2 separate regions of the Homo sapiens genome follow, and region 2 is linked to region 1. A link means that fine-mapping ties the variant in region 1 to the expression of a gene that starts in the linked region. Tissue or cell type: whole blood. Region 1 holds a variant in brackets; the other region holds the start of a gene. All regions are shown on one strand. Distances are between the middles of the regions.

Region 1 (8,103 bases):
ACTTCAGCCAAAAGTGCTTCCGCTCACTCTACTACTGTACTACTGTACCTGACGGCAGATGTCACCAGAGAGCCTCCCTGCCTGTGTGCATGGGGGTCCTCCCTGTCCTTTCTGGCTCAGCACATCACTGCCTCCGTTTTTAAGCATCCCCGGCCCCACTGGAAACTCTGGCAGGCTCTCCTCTACGCTCCCTCACCATTGATCTGCTTCCCTCTCAGGGCGTGTGATAATTATGGTCTATATAGGGGTGTCCAATCTTTTGGCTTCCCTAGGCCACACTGGAAGAATTGTCTTTGGCCACACATAAAATACACTAACACTAACACTAACGATAGTGCTGATGAGCTTAAAAAAAAATAAAATAAAAAAATCATGTTTTAAGAAAGTTTATGAATTGTGTTGGGCTGCATTCAAAGCCGTCCTGGGCTGCATGTAGCCCGCGGGCCATGGGTTGGACAAACTTGGTCTACCATATACCATGGCTGTGTAAAGACAGACATCCTGAGAAGAGGATTCCTGCATTCTTCTGTCTATGAAGACACCAATTCCTAACTTTTAAATTACTGTTGTAGAAGAATGAATGAAAAGGTAACTTCCTACCTCCCATACAAGAGCAGATACACTTTTGTATTCCAAGAACTAGGCCATGGCTCTCAAACTCTGGATAGCTTACAACAAAGTCAGAATCTCAGGCCCTATCCCTGTCTCTATATCTTTAAGCTCCTCCAGTGATTCTGATGCTAGTCTCCATAGGCCACACTTCAGGAAACTCTGAAGTAAGAAATTATTTAAACATCAGGCTGGATGCAGTGGCTCACGCCTAATCCCAGTACTTTGGGAGGCTGAGGTGGGTGGATCACTTGAGGCCAGGAGGTCGAAACCAGCCTGGCCAACATGGCAAAACCCCATTTCTACTAAAAATACAAAAATTAGCTGGCGTGGTGGTGTGCACCTGTGATCCCAGCTACTTGGGGGGCTGAGGCACAAGAATTGCTCAAACCCAGGAGGTGGAGAGGTTGCGGTAAGCCAAGATCGCACCACTGCACTCCAGCCTGGGTGACAGAGCGAGACTGTCTCAAAACAAAACAAAACAAAACAAAACAAAACAAAACAAAACAAAACTCCTCCTGTGCTCCTTTCCCTGGACAATTTCTTTAGCATTTCAGGAACTGCATTGAAAAAAAAAAATCCTCGCCTTTAATTGGAAGGTTAAATCCCCATAATTAGTTTGGCTCTTTTGGGGAGTGGGAGGGAGATGGGGAAGGATAAGGGTAGAGGAAGAGAGGACAGTGCTTTGAAACAAAAGGAGAGGCAGGGCCCAAACCTGGAGGCAGGGAAAGGGAGGGAATGGAGGGGAGGTTTTGCATTCTGAAAGTGCCTGGGAATGTAGGGTGTCCTTGTGGCAGGCTAGGGAGGCTCTGGTGCTTAAGTGTCATTCTATGTCCAAGCCTGTGCCACACAAGAGTGAGGATGCTGCCCTCAAGAGTGAGGGGCCAGGGAATCGGGCGCAGCAGTCAGCGACTGAAGATCAGACCAGGGGACCTTCCCCAACCTCTGAGCTCAGTTCAGCCCTGAGGTTTCTGTATGTTCCTGAGGGAAGAGAATGGGTCTCTGCCAAAACAGAGGCTGAGAATGAATTTCTAATTAAGTATGGTGGGTAGAACCTGAGTCCAAGATTACCATAAAAATATGGAAGCATGGCATTTCTTATATTCCACTACCACATAACAAATGCTTTCCATTTTAAAAATGATTGTATTTTTGCATCTACTATGTGCCATCCACAAAGAAGGTACTCAAAAACTTGAATAAATGGATGAATGAATGAATACTGAATGACTAGGAAAAGTCACTGTTTAATACAGCAGATTTGAAAAGAGAGAAGAAAGGACCTTTCATTGGCCTCTGGCCTCATTCAGGACTTGCGTTCTGGTCGGAAGGATAAAACTGGCATTTCTAAGTCAATACCAGAGTTTCCTTTTCAGAAGGTAAGACACCGTGGTGCAGAACTAATTACACTTTATGTAGCACTCATCTAAGTCTACTGACCATATGCTGTGGAACCATGGACTGCAGAAAGGGCTGCATTATTTCTACCATGGAGATGTCTATCTATCCATTATCATGAGCACACAAGACAGGGAGAGGAAGAGAAAGGACAGCTGGCCACCCTGTGAGGTGAAGTCTTTCCGCTTCAAGGCAGCACCTGTCAGGCTCCGAGAAAACGCAAGGTATGTATGTACTGGGCAGAATCTCCGCAGGCTCCCAACGACCCCCTGGGACCAGCGGCCCCACCAAGGGTGAGAGCTCAGCCCAGAAGGAGCCCATGTGCTCCTCTATTCTCCTTGAGGCCTCTACTCTTCTTGGCTTTGCAAAGGATGGAAGATTCCGTGAGCCCTGGCTAAGTACATTCTAACCTGGGTCTTGTGCTGTCACCTCCTTGAGTTTGGCTGTGACATAAAACAACTCTTCCTTTTTTCTTAAAAAACGAAACAAAACCACCACCACCACCAAAGTTCATACATGGAACTCTATGTCAAGACCACAGCTCTGGACCAGATCCATATGACCATCACCCGGCCTCACACACCACGCACCTAATGCTGGTTTGTGCTGGCACAGAAACTGTATACCCAAGCTCTGGTCAGAGCCCCATGGCCAGTTAATGCCATTCAGCCACTCATTCCTGCCATGCAAACGAACACTCACCATCTGTCTGCTCCCAACCTCCCACCTCAATACTGCTCTGTGCTTTCTTTCCCTAATTTTCTCCTAGCAATTCCTTTTGACCATTCTCCAGAATTCCTATTCTATCACACTCATTAACAATTTAGAAATCATTAGAGAACTACATACTTAGCTGAAATATCAAAAGGTACTGAAAGGCTAGTCATGAAAAGCAATGTTCCCTGCTCTTCCTCTGCTCTTCTGAAGGCTTCTCTCCAGGGACCCCCACCTTGAACTAGGTTACTTTTCAGTTCTTCTGGCAGTTGCCTTTTTATCATTAATGTTTTTATTGTTATTTCCTGATCTATCCATTTTAGGCATCACTTTAACCAACCTCTTACTGAAACAGAAGGTGATTTTGGTCATCAGCCCCGCCCCTCCCTCCAGTATATATCACTGCTCTTAGTGCCTCTGTTAGTTCCTGTGCCATTATCCTGAGGGTGACAGTGATGGAAAGATGCCACCACAGATAGGAAGTGGACATGACTCTCTGGGATATGGGGAGACGATGTGCCTGTTACCCACACACAGCTACAAGATCAGAAGACAATGCAGCCATAGCCCACTGAAGGGCGGCTTCCCAGGCCCCACAGGGAGGAGCCCTCAGACCCTGATGCACCTGTGCGTCGGGGTGAAGGCAGGAGGCTTGCTGGGAAGCTCCGTTTTCCATTCTCACCAAGACAGGTGGGCTGGTTTGAGGGAGAGGGAGTTTTGCCCCTGACCCCTGAGTGTTCTAGAGACTGTCCACTGTTAACTGGTAAAACCCCCGTACAATGCTGTGTACTTCCTGTAAAGGCGAACAGAACTTCAGCTCCAGGGTGCACTATGCTCCAGGCCCGCCCAGCAGAGGCATGCTCCTGTAGCTGTCTGTAGGAGGCCAAATCATATACTCATACCTTTATTTCTTCTTCTACCACCTGTATTATTCTTTTCATTGTGTAATTTTTTTTCTTTTTTAGTAGGGATGGGGGTCTCACTATATTGCCCAGGCTGGTCTCGAACTCCTGGCTTCAAGTGATCCTTCCGTCTCAGGCTCTCAAAGTGCTGGGATTACAGACATGAGCTACCATGCTCAGCTTCTTTTTCATTTTGGAAAATCTTAAGCTTTTTAAAAAGTAGAAAGAGCACTATAATGAACCTCACACGCTCATCATCCTGCTTTAGTAAATTATCAGCTCAAGGCCAACCTTGTTTCATCCACACTACACTTACTTTCCCTATGATCATATTATTTTGAAGCATTCCCCAGACCCAATCATTTCCCTCTTAACTATTTCAATATTGACAGGAGCACTGAACTTTCTTCTTTGTAAAATTTGGATGTTTATGTCCTCAGCCCTCCCTTTTCTTCTATCTTCTAACTCTCTGGACAAAATTCTAACCAACAACAATCCAATCTTCTAACTCCACGCTGTGTAGACTGAGATAACAGATTCTTGGTTGCCAACCTCAGCCAGCCCATAGCACTGGTCAGCAATTGTTCTGACAATATCAGAAAAAGGTGTCGGCTCCTTTATAAAAGTTATAAAAGTTGTAAAAAAGAAAAAGTTCTGATACCTACCGTAAAGCCCTTATACTAACAACTATATACTCATCTGGCATACATTTAGGGAGT[A/G]TCTCCAACTGATTAGCACATGACACTGAGGACACTGAGGGATAAAAATGCGATCCTTGCCATTAAGAAATCTTCGTATAGTGGAAACAGACACTCTGCTGTGGAGGTGCAGAGGAGGAAAGGAAGTTGCTATGGGATGTGTGTCATCAGATGGTCCCCTTCCCTGGGTTTCTACACAAGAATTCCACCTGGACTCCCTGGACTCCTGGACCTCCTAAGTCCTCCCAGGACTTAGGCCTGGCTCCTTCCAATCCACACTCCCAACTGCTGCCAGTGGGGTCTTTCTAAACACTGATCGTCGGTGACTTTTCGGCCTAAAACATCTCAACAATTCCCAGTCACATCAGGACTCAAGTTCACAGCCTGCAATCTCCAGTCTCTTCATAATGGCCCTCCCCAGCTCTCCACCTTCTTGCTCATAGCACTGTCACCAGCTCTGCTAAACTCCTGGTAGTTCCTGAAAGGGCTGGTCATTTCCTTTCCCCACCACGAACACCCCCTTCCCCCGCCCCCATGCTCCTTAGGAATCAGCTCTGGTGTGATCTCTCTTAACTTGGACTCAGGTGACACAGGGCACTCCCCTCCCCTCTCATGGCTCCCAGGAATGCATGGGCACACCTCCAACACCGAGCTTCTAACGAGGTGCCTGCTGTCCACTCACAGCTGCTGCTCTGGGCCAGAAAGTCTGCTGGCTGAATGAATTTTAAGGAAGTCTAGTGGGTTCCTGGCTCTGGAGATCACAGGAGAGAAGTCTGCTAGAGACAAAGATTTACCTGTCCAGCCAAAGGCAATGTTCCCAGATGGTGTGGATGAGATTGCCCAGGGAAAAAGAGTCCAGATGAAACCCAAGGGAACAATAGCATTAAAGAGCTGACAAGAGACAACCAAAGCGAAAGCTGAAAAGCAGGGGACTTTCGAGACAAAGGAATAACACATTTTTCTTTTTTTTTTTTTTAATTATACTTTAAGTTTTAGGGTACATGTGCACAACATGCAGGTTTGTTACATATGTATACATATGCCATGTTGGTGTGCTGCACCCATTAACTCGTCATTTAACATTAGGTATATCCCCTAATGCTATCCCTTCCCCTTCCCCCCACCCCACAACAGGCCCTGGTGTGTGATGTTCCCCTTCCTGTGTCCATGCGTCCTCATTGTTCAGTTTGCACCTATGAATGAGAACAAGCGGTGTTCAGTTTTTTGTCCTTGCGATAGTTTGCTGAGAATGATGGGGGCAACATGGTAAAACCCTGTCTCTACTAAAATACAAAAAATTAGCTGGGCGTGGTGAAGTGTTCCTGTAGTCCCAGCTACTCGCAAGGCTGAGGCACGAGAATCACTTGAACCCAGGAGGCAGATGTTGCAGCGAGCCAAGATTGCACCACTGTACTCCAGCCTGGGCGACAGAGTGAGACTCTGTCTCCAAAAAAAAAAAAAAAGAAAAAAGAAAAAAGAAAAGAATTAAACTGTACTTAAAAGCATGTGTCTTTCTTTGTTTCAAACTATATTTAAGGTTCTTGTACAGCCTTGTGGGTTTCATCATAAAGAAAAATTTTTTTTTTTTTTGGAGACAGGAGTCTTGCTCTGTCGCTCAGGCTGCAGTACAGTGGTGCAATCTTGGCTCGCTGCAACATCTGCCTCCTGGGTTCAAGTGATTCTTGTGCCTCAGCCTTGCAAGTAGCTGGGACTACAGGAACACTTCACCACGCCCAGCTAATTTTTTGTACTTTAGTAGAGACAGGGTTTTACTATGTTGCCCAGCCTGGTCTCAAACTCCTGAGCTAAAGCGATCTGCCCGCCTCGGCCTCCCTAAGTGCTAGAATTACAGCACAACCATATAATTCTTAAAACTCTTAAGATACAGACAATTAACACCAGGAGGTACGGATATGCACTGTTATTATACAATAAATATAAACATTAAAAGTATATCTGACACTATTCATAATAGCCAAAGAGTGAAAACCACCCAAGCATCCATCGATAGAAAAATGGATAAACAAAACGTGGTATATACATATAAGGAAGATTATTCAGCTATGACAAGGAATAAGTACTGAAACATACTAAACACGGGTGAACCTTGAAAACAGTATGCTAAGTGAGAGCATATCATGTGACTCAATTTATATAAAATGTCCAGAATAGGCAAATCCACAGAGACAGGAAATACAGACTGGGGGTTGCCGGAAGAGGGGGGAATGAGGACTGACTGCTAGGGGCTTCTTCTGGAAGTGGTGAAAATATTCTAAAATTGGCTGTAGTGACGGGTGGCTGCACGCTTCTGTGAATACACTGAAAACCACTGAATTGTGTACTTTAAATGAGCGAACTGTATGGTATGTAAATGATGTCTCAATAAAGCTGTTATAAGAAAAAAAGCACATCCAAGTGAACAAAAGTTTCACACATCCCTTGCTCAGTATAGCGATCCTGTTAGCACCCATAAACAGAACTCTAAAATCTAAATGAATGCCCAGTTCTCAATACCAATTCTGTGTTGCCTTTACTTGTGAACACTGGCCTCTTACATAAAACAGTAGATGAAACACCCAGCACGCAGACTTCTATATTAGCTCCACATTACAGTAACAACCTCTGTTGCAGAGTCGGGAACGAGCCAGAGCCTCACCACTCCACCTTCCCACCTCACACACTTTCTGTCCAACCATCTTCTATCTTGAATACCTACCGCCCACGCCCCCAAACTATGGACATAGCTGAAGCCGGCTGAGCCCCGGCTTACTGGGGAGAACAACTAGGATAGCTTTCAGAAAGCAGGGGCAGAGGGAAGGGTGCTCACCCACAGGAACAACCAATCAAAAAACAGGCACAACCGGCCCCAACACACCCGCCACCCTCCCAGAAACAGGACTTTTCAGTCTGTGGGTTTTGTTTGTTTTTTAGCTGCATCTACAAAGATTTTTATAGTCAGTTTCAAATTCCCTCAGCAGTTATAGGTTTTGATCTGTTCCTAATTATGGAAAAGAATCCTGGGATTGGTTCAGAGTGAAGGAACTTGAGTTTAGTATTACCATTTTTAAAGCCCCAATGCTTACACAAATTTCCAACTAGAGAATTAGATTTCCTCAGTTACTTTGCTTTAAAAAAATGAGAATCTCAATTTTTAAAATCTCATTTAAAAAATGAGAATCTCAATTTTTAAAATCTCATTTAAAAAAGGAGAATCTCAATTTTTAAAATCTCATTTAAAAAAGGAGAATCTCAATTTTTAAAATCTCATTTAAAAAAGGAGAATCTCAATTTTTAAAATCTCATTTAAAAAAGGAGAATCTCAATTTTTAAAATCTAATTTAAAAAATGAGAATCAAAGGCAAAACGGCTTTGCCTGCATCGAAAGCCATACTGAAATTTAACTGAATGGCCTACACTGCACTATTTAGACATTTCCCTACTGTCTTCCTTAAATAAGTCTCTCCATTTTTACTGAATTTGCACAGTTGCTAAATGTGTGTATTTAAGAGCCATGCTACACACCTAGAAAAGCTAAGTCTCTGGGGAAAAAACAGCAATAAAGAAACATGCAGCCCTTGTTGAGAACATGATGTATTTACCCAGGAAGACACGAGCTCAGCCCTCCACATAGCGCACAGCCAGATACGGTCCCCAAAGCAGAGAGAACCAGTGTCAACCAGGCTCTCATGCGAGGACTGAGAACACACGGTGACACGGGCCTAGTCACAGTGAATAGTGCAGTCATTTGTACCAAACAGCAAAAAGACACGTTTGCAATAGAA
Region 2 (8,103 bases), 150 kb after region 1:
GAGATGGAGTCTCACACCCTCGCCTGGTCTGGAGTGCAATGGCGCAATCTCGGCTCTCTGCAACCTCCGCTTCCCGGGTTCAAGCAATTCTCCTGCCTCAGCCTCCCGAGTAGCTGGGATCACAGGCGCCTGCCACCATGCCCAGGTAATTTTTTGTATTTTTAGTAGAGACGGGGATTCACTATGTTGGCCAGGCTGGTCTCAACTCCTAACCTCTTGATCTGCCCGCCTCAGCCTCCCAAAGTGCTGGGATTACAGGCGTGAGTCACCGCGCTTGGCCTCGACTAAAATTTTATTGAGTTTTTGTTGTTGTTGTTGTTGTTTTGAGATGGACTCTCGCTCTGTCACCCAGGCTGGAGTGCAGTGGTGCGATCTCGGCTCACTGCAAGCTCTGCCTCCCGGGTTCACGCCATTCTCCTGCCTCAGCCTCCCGAGTAGCTGGGACTACAGGTGCCCGCCACCACGCCCGGCTAATTTTTTGTATTTTTAGTGGAGACGGGGTTTCACCAAGTTAGCCAGGATGGTCTCGATCTCCTGACCTCGTGATACACCGCCTCGGCCTCCCAAAGTGCTGGGATTACAGGTGTTAGCCACCACGCCTGGCCTACTGAGTTTTTTTTAAAAGACCAGAGTCATAAGTTCCTCCTACTTTCATTTTTAAAAATGCAAAATCCCAAAGCCCACAAAATATAATGGTATCATCAGGACCAAAGTCATAATTGTCTACCCAGGAAACAGCACTGACATCACCTAGAATCAGCTCAAAGGGAATGTCCACAATAAGCAGGGGAGTCCCTTCACTCACCTGTGACACTATTTGAGACAACCAGTGTCAGGACTGCCTGTTCCCTGCAACAAGTAGCTCTTATCCAATCCTCTGGGCTTTCCATGTGGACTCTCAGAGAGAGCTCCCTGGCAATCTCCCTCATAGGTCGATGACTCCAAACTTAACATCTGCCAGGTGTGTACTCTGAGAGCACCCCAAACTCAGCATGCATGCAATTAAATGTCTAACACCTGCTCCTGTGTCCCTGTGTCTGTTAATGGTATCACTGTCCTCTCAACCACCCAAGACAGGATCTAGTTTTCTTTCCCTCACCATCCCCCACCTTTCCAAGAGCAAACCAGTTTACACGGAAGACTTGTCCATTTCACCTCTACAAGCTCTCATTACCACTGCTCTGACCCATGCCAACAGATCCCACCTAGCTGCCCCCTATCTCTCATGCCCAAAGTGAGTGTACCTACTCTGAACATTACAGATTGATCTTGCTATGAAGTCCCCTTCCCACACCGCTGGTCCCCACTGCCTACCACAGTGTCCCAGGTTTTCAGAACTTGAAGGATCCTCGTCTGACTCAACCATCCATTCACCTGACCTTGGAAGCTTCTCAAATGGAAAATGCCCTGGCCTCACCTTCAAGGCCATTTGTATTCTGGCTCCAATCTAAAAGCCTATAATGTCATGAAAATAGGCGTGAACTACGCCATTTCACAGCTCTTGGGCTAAAGGTCAAAATTCTCAATCCAACCCACAGATCTCCACTTGGCCTGGCTTCCCGCCTTTCTCTCCAGTCTTGCCAAGCTCCCCTTTGCTCTCTCTGCTCCTGCCACCTGGCCTTCCATCCGCTTCAACCCCAAGCCTCTGTACCTGCTGGCCCCTCAGCACCCCACCCCTCACGCAGGTAGTACCATCTCACCCCTCAGACTTCACATCGCTTCCTCAGTGACTTACCTTACCCCTAGACTAAGTCAAGTCCTCTGTTTGTCTCCTGCTCTTTACCTCCACAGCCTTAAACAAAATTACAATAAAATTTTTGTTGGATTTTTTTACTCCCAAGCTGAAATGTGAGCTCCGTAAGAGCAGGACTGTGCCTGTCTTGTATACCACTGTATCTCACAACCTAAAACATAGGAGCCCTCAACAAATACATGTAGGTTAATGGAATTCATAAATCAGAACACCCTAAGTTACAAAAGCAGCTTCACTGCATCAGTGGTCCTGAAGTAACTTGGTTTCTCCATCCATAAAACTAAAGAGCTCATCTGCTCAACGTTCTCTGAGTTCCTCAGAAGACCTAATATTACCTAAGTCTACAATTTTGCTATTCCAAACTCCTCTCTCACAACTCTCTTCCACATAGGCAGCAGCAAAACTTTACTTTCCAGCCTCCACAACTTTGTTTGCACCCTTCTTTCCATCTGTAATTTTTTTCCAGCTCCACATTTCCAAATCCTACTTAACCTTACATGCTCAAATCCAATGTTACCGCCTCCTCAAAGTCCTCCTTGCATCCCTCCAGCTAGCCACAACCTCTCCATCCCTGAATTCCCACAAGTTCCCTGTTGCCTCATTCAGGTCTCAGATCAAATGTCATTTCAAATGAGAACCCTCTCCAAGAGTCACCACCGGTTATAATTCTCTATCAGACCACGCTGTTTTTATTTTCTTGATAGCATTTACCATTACCTGAAATTACCATGTTTATTTCTCTCATTTATTTACTTGTTAAGTGCCTGTTGCTCCCACTAGAATGTTAAGGTCAATGAGAGCAGAGGCCCTGTCTGTCTTGTTCACATTTCCCCACTCCCCCACATCAGACATGTGTTCAGTAAGCTAAATACCTGTCAAAGGCGTGAATGACTCTGTAACCCTTATGACTAGGGTTATGTGCGCACATTATCTTTCTCTTGCTATATTCCAAACTCCCTGTGGACAAGGCCAAAGTCTGGCTAATCTGTCTGTATTATCTGGAAAATCATTGCACAACTGAAGCAAATAACGATAACTGCTAATTAATTTATTGATTTCTCCAAGAGGAACTGCCCCAAACTAAGCCAATTCAGAACTTCATATTGTCCAGAAACCAAGGCAAATAGGAATCTCCTTCCATTCCCTCTTCACCACAGACCCTATTCCAATTTGCCACCTCCAGGGAGCTTTTGCCAAAAGGCTAGTTTCCTCACTTTCCTTTAGAAGGACCACTGGTCCTTCTATCCCTAATATCTTACAATGCTACCCTTTCCCTTTTATCTCCAGCCAACAAAGCATTTCCAGGGCCCTGTTTCTTCAGAGCACCCCACATCTCCAGTGCATCGGGGAACTCATCGGGTCCTAGGGCACATGTGGATGTTAAAAGGAAGTGTTCAAGCAAACCTGGCTCGACCACCTTTCCTTGGATACCTCGTTTAGCTGAAACACGCCGAGTTTTAGAGCGATCGGCTTTGATGCTCTTTGGGTCCCTCAGCATTCTTCCCATCTAACTAACCTAAGCACCCAAATACCGTCGGGGTGCCCCCACCCTTGCCCCACACCTTTTCACCTTCCAACAGAGAAAGACCCCAGGCCAGAGACGATGATCTCCCCGGAAGCAAATGGCCCTCAAACCCCATAGGGCGGCCCTACCCTCTCCACTTTCTGTCCAGCATCTCCCTCTGACCTGGAGCCGTCTCGAACGCCCCTCAGCCCCAGCCTCTGGTTGGACCCGACCCTCCGACACCACCCGCCACTCACCTGAAGCGGCCCCCGCAGTGCTGGCATTGCTCGCCCACCCAGCCGGCGGGGCAGACGCACTGGCCGGTGCCAGGGTTGCAGCGACCGCCGTTGACACAGGGCCGGTCACATTCCTTGGCCTCGGCTGCGGCTGAGCCCGACACCGCCGCCGCCGCCGCCGCGGCCTCGGCCTCACAGGGCAGCAGCAGCAGCAGCAGCGGCGGCGAGAGCAACAACAGCAGCAGCAGCAGCCGTGGCCGCAGCGGTGGAGACAGCAGCCGCGGGAGGCGCAGCCCGGCCCCCAGCCCCGGCCTCCCAGCCCTGGTCACGTCCCAGTCCCAGTGCGGCCCGCCGCTCCTGCCCGCGAGCGCTGCCGTCGCCGCCGTCCTCCTCCTCAGCCTTGCCTCAGTTGCCGCCGCTGCAGCCACCATCTTCCCGGGGCTGAGACGGCGCCCCGCGAACACATACACACACACCGCACGGCCGGCTCCGCTTCGCCTGGCCGTGCGGGGCGGGGCTGTGCGGACGGTGGCTCGTGCGGTCCAAAGGGGCCACAGCGGGGCGGTGGGCGGGGCCGGCGCGCGCGTGCGCGAGTACGTGGGTGCGTGCGTGCGGGGGCGCAGACAGTGGTCTCCGGCGTCCGCGGCGCCGGAGGCGATCTTCTGACGTGGACCGTAGAACGAGCTGAAACCCGGCTGCGCTGTCCCGGCCGGCGAAAGCTCTAGTTTTCCCCCTTCGCCTTTCGTCCCCGGCGGCGGGGTTGCAGCCCCACTGGATGCCTAGGAGCCGACTGCGTTGAGTGTTGCCCTCCTAGAGACCCGGCACTCTGCCCTAACTCCAGCTGCCGGACGGAAAGGGTACAGGAGGCTGCATCGCAGCGAGGTGCTGGGTGCGGTACTGTAGAAGCCAGGCTTCATTCGAGCCTCTGTAACACAAGAGTCAAGAAAGAACACATGTAGAACCTGGCATAGGCCGGGCGCGGAGGCTTACGCCTGTAATCCCAGCACTTTGGGAAACTGAGGCAGGCGGATCACTTGATCTCTGGGATCCGAGACCAGCCTGGCCAACAGGGTGAGACACTGTCTCTACTAAAAATACAAAAATTAGCCGAGCATGGTGGTGCGCGCCTGTATCCCCAGCTACTCCAGAGGCTGAGGCAGGAGGATCGCTTGAGTCTGGAGAGGTCAAGGCTGCAGTGAGCCGCAGTCGCAGCACTGCACTCCAGCCTGGGCAACACAAGACCCTGTGTCAAAAAATGAAGAACCTGGCATGTAGGCTGTGCTCAGTAAATGCCTAATAAACTGAATGAAGACACACAGCCAGGCCTCTTGATAACAGATGGACTGTAGCTGACCAGACCCCCTACCTTTAATTCTGTAAAAGTTTGGAGTTACCTTGCTCCCCACAATTTGCCCTCCAACCATCTTCTCTGAAGAGTGGGCAATATAGAATTAGGAAATGGCGCTCACACAGACCTGCCCCTTCTTGTCTGGTAGTTGTTACTCTGGTGTCCCTCAATGAGACATGTCTTCCATCAATGTAGCCTTTTATGGTCCTTGACCCTGGAATCTGGGCTGGGTCATGATTGAGACCATGAGAAACCATGACTCAATTTCACCAATAGAAGAAGTTGGTAGGAGTAGCAATGTCTTGTTTCTAGCTCTGAGCTTAAAAAAGACCTGGCAGCCTTGGCCGGGCACGGTGGCTCACGTCTGTAATCCCAGCACCTTGGGAGGCCGAGGCGGGCAGATCACGAGGTCAGAAGTTCGAGACCACCCTGATCGACGTGGTGAAACCCTGTCTCTACAAAAAATACAAAAATTAGCCGGGCGTGGTGGCACACACCTGTAATCCCAGCTACTCAGGAGAGTCGCTTGAATCCAGGAGGCAGAGGTTGCAGAGAGTCGTGATCGCGCCACTGCACTCCAGCCTGGGGGACAGAGCGAGACTCTGTCTCAAAAAAAAAAAAAGACCTGGCAGCCTTGATTTTGAGCTGTTGGTGGTCATGAGCTGCACCCCGTTAGCCACCTTGCTGGAGAGAAACCATGTGCAGAGACCACTTGGACTTGGAGAGGGAGAGCTGGGCCGCTCAGCTGGTGGAGCCATCCTAGCTAAGGGATCAGTCATTGAGTGAAGAAGCTATCTGGGTTGGGTTATTCCAACCGTCTGGGCTGTTCCATGTTACCTACAACAGTAACAGGTCTTTCCTAACTGTGACTTATCCAAAATCCTAAGAAATAACTCATTTATCATTTAACCCTTAAGTGATGAATTATTTATAATTTTTCATAAATTATGATTTATGTTATTTTAAGCCTCTAAGTTTTAGAGAGGTTTGTTACTCAGTAATAGATAAGCAGAACATTGTCCGACATAATGCTTGTGCTATGAGGAATATTCCTATGGCACCTACCTCAGAATCTGGGCACCTTACAGTCCCTGGGAAACAAAGAAAAACCCTCATAGACCTGTGGAGCCTCTCAGCTTTACCTCAGAGTATGGAATTTTAAGGTTCTAAGATGGATTTCCACACTCATACCCAGGTCCCACTCTCATACTCAGGTCCTGACTGTCCTCACTGCATCTTCTTCAAGCCTGGTGAAGCTGAATTGCACAAAAGCCTTACCCCCAGCTCTACATCCACACATACTCCCCATTCCTACAGGAAAACTATTGTTCGGCCTAGGCCCTAGCACTGACATTCTGGTTTGCAGGTTATGTTTTTGCCATGTAGGATTTTGAAATTGAAGACATGGCCCTACCCTCTGGCAGGACCCCATCAGATGGGGAGGCTGGCATAGGCCATGCCCTAGCTGTAGGAGACATTGCTCCCCCTAATCTTCCAGGCCAGAAGTGAACCAGCCCTTTCCTTCCCTTCCCTCCCCACAGCAAGACTGAACCCACACTGTGAAGTTTCACATGATTTTACCAACATTCAGGGATAACAGAAAAGGTGTGCATCTGAAGAACAGCAATCCCTAGACTAGATATTGCTACTCTGAAGCCTTAGAATCTTGCTGCAGCAAACATTCTTTCTTACTTCCTTAATCTACTCTCTTCTCTGGTTCTTTTTCCTTAGCTTTCAAACATGCTCAAATTATTTTGTCCTTAAAAAACAAACACGCTGGGTGCAGTGGCTCATGCCTGTAATCCCAGTGCTTTGGGAGGCCAAGGTGGGAGGATCACCTGAGGCCAGGAGTTTGAGACCAGCCTGGACAACATAGTGAGACCTTGTCTCTACAAAAAATTTTTTAAAAAATTAGTCAGATGTGGTGGCGTGCATGTGTAGTCCCAGCTACTTGGGAGGCTGGGGCAGGGGGATCACAGAGCCCAGGAGTTTGAGGCTGCAGTAAGCTATGTTTGGACCACTGCACTCCAGCCTGGGCAACAGATCAAGACCCTGTCTCTAAAAACAAATAAACAAAGAAACAAAATCTTACCTGCTATCTTCTTTTTCCTTTACTGCGTTTATCAAAAAGTCCCCTACACATTCTATGTCTGTGTGATAGATTAAAGATGGCTGCAAATTCTCTTACATTCCTTCTATGGAGAGATCAGGTCTAACCCTTGGCCCCGGCCCCACCCCCACCCCCACCCCCACCCCACTCTGAATCTAGCCTGGCCTTAGTGATTTGCTTGACTGATAGACTATGGTGGAAGTGATGTACTGGGATTTCTGAGGTCCCAGAAATGGGACTTTATGCTAGGTCATAAGAAGTCTTGCAGCTTCCTCCTGAAGTGTCTTGGAACACTTGCCATAAAAGATGTCCAGCTACCCTGAGACCACCATGCTGTGAGGAAGCCAGCCCCCAGCCATTCAAGTCTTCCCAGTTGGGGCCCCAATCATGAAGCAGGGGGGTGTTGTTCCTGCTGAACCCGCCCCAAACTGCAGATACATAAGCAAATAAATGAGCCAACTGGGGACAGTTCGTTACACAATAATAAATTACCAGAATACTCTGTACCCTGGTTCCTCCAAGGACAAGAATAAGTCTTGTGATGTGGACTTGATTAAGAATTAAGAACGACAGTATAATTGTATATAAATGTATAATCTACAACTAGTCATCTATATGTAATACACTAGTATCATTGTCCAGTTGCTTCTCATGAAGGAGGTCACCGTAGTCACCGTAGCTTCAGAAGTGCCTCTGTTGTACCCCAGTGCCTTATCAGCAAGATTCTGCAGCAGTTCTGCCTGAAATCCCTTTTTTTCCACTGGTCTTTGTCATGGTGGTCATTTCCAGGTCCCAGAAACTGTAATGCCAGTGGCAAAGAATACCCAGGCTTTGATACAAATTACTCTAAGTCCAGACACTAAAATAACATTGTTCTTGCCAACTGCATGACCAAAAGGGTTTGTCTCCACTAGGTTAGTGCAGGATGGTTTGAAGGTGCCTATGCCTATTCTTTTTCACTTAAGTAAGGCATCTTACTCACCTTGGCCCTTTCTCTGATTTCATGTCATCTCTTCCTGTTTCTTTGCTTGCATTGTCTCCAAGTCATGGACATAGATGGATTTTATAATTTTTGGCTTTTACTCATGCAGTGTCTTTGGTCAGATTCCCTAGAAGCAGAACCCTGAAACAGGATCTGAGTGCATAATTCAT

Evidence for each region. PIP is the estimated chance that this variant, and not a neighbour inherited with it, causes the effect.
Region 2: ATRN starts here. The variant in region 1 is fine-mapped to the expression of ATRN in whole blood (TOPMed, PIP above 0.99).

What each region holds. Positions count from the first base shown.
Region 1 is chr20:3,613,239-3,621,341 of GRCh38, reverse strand. The region is part of intron 24 of ATRN (attractin); the gene reads right to left. Among named protein-coding and RNA genes, the nearest start is that of GFRA4, 46 kb to the left of the region's middle. RefSeq lists a silencer at 149-348. The variant A/G (reference allele first, on the strand shown) is at 4,343.
Region 2 is chr20:3,466,929-3,475,031 of GRCh38, reverse strand. ATRN (attractin) reads right to left here and starts at 4,014. Exons shown (of 29, transcript NM_139321.3): 1 at 3,515-4,014. The coding sequence starts at 3,924. RefSeq lists a silencer at 3,628-4,187 and an enhancer at 4,288-4,427.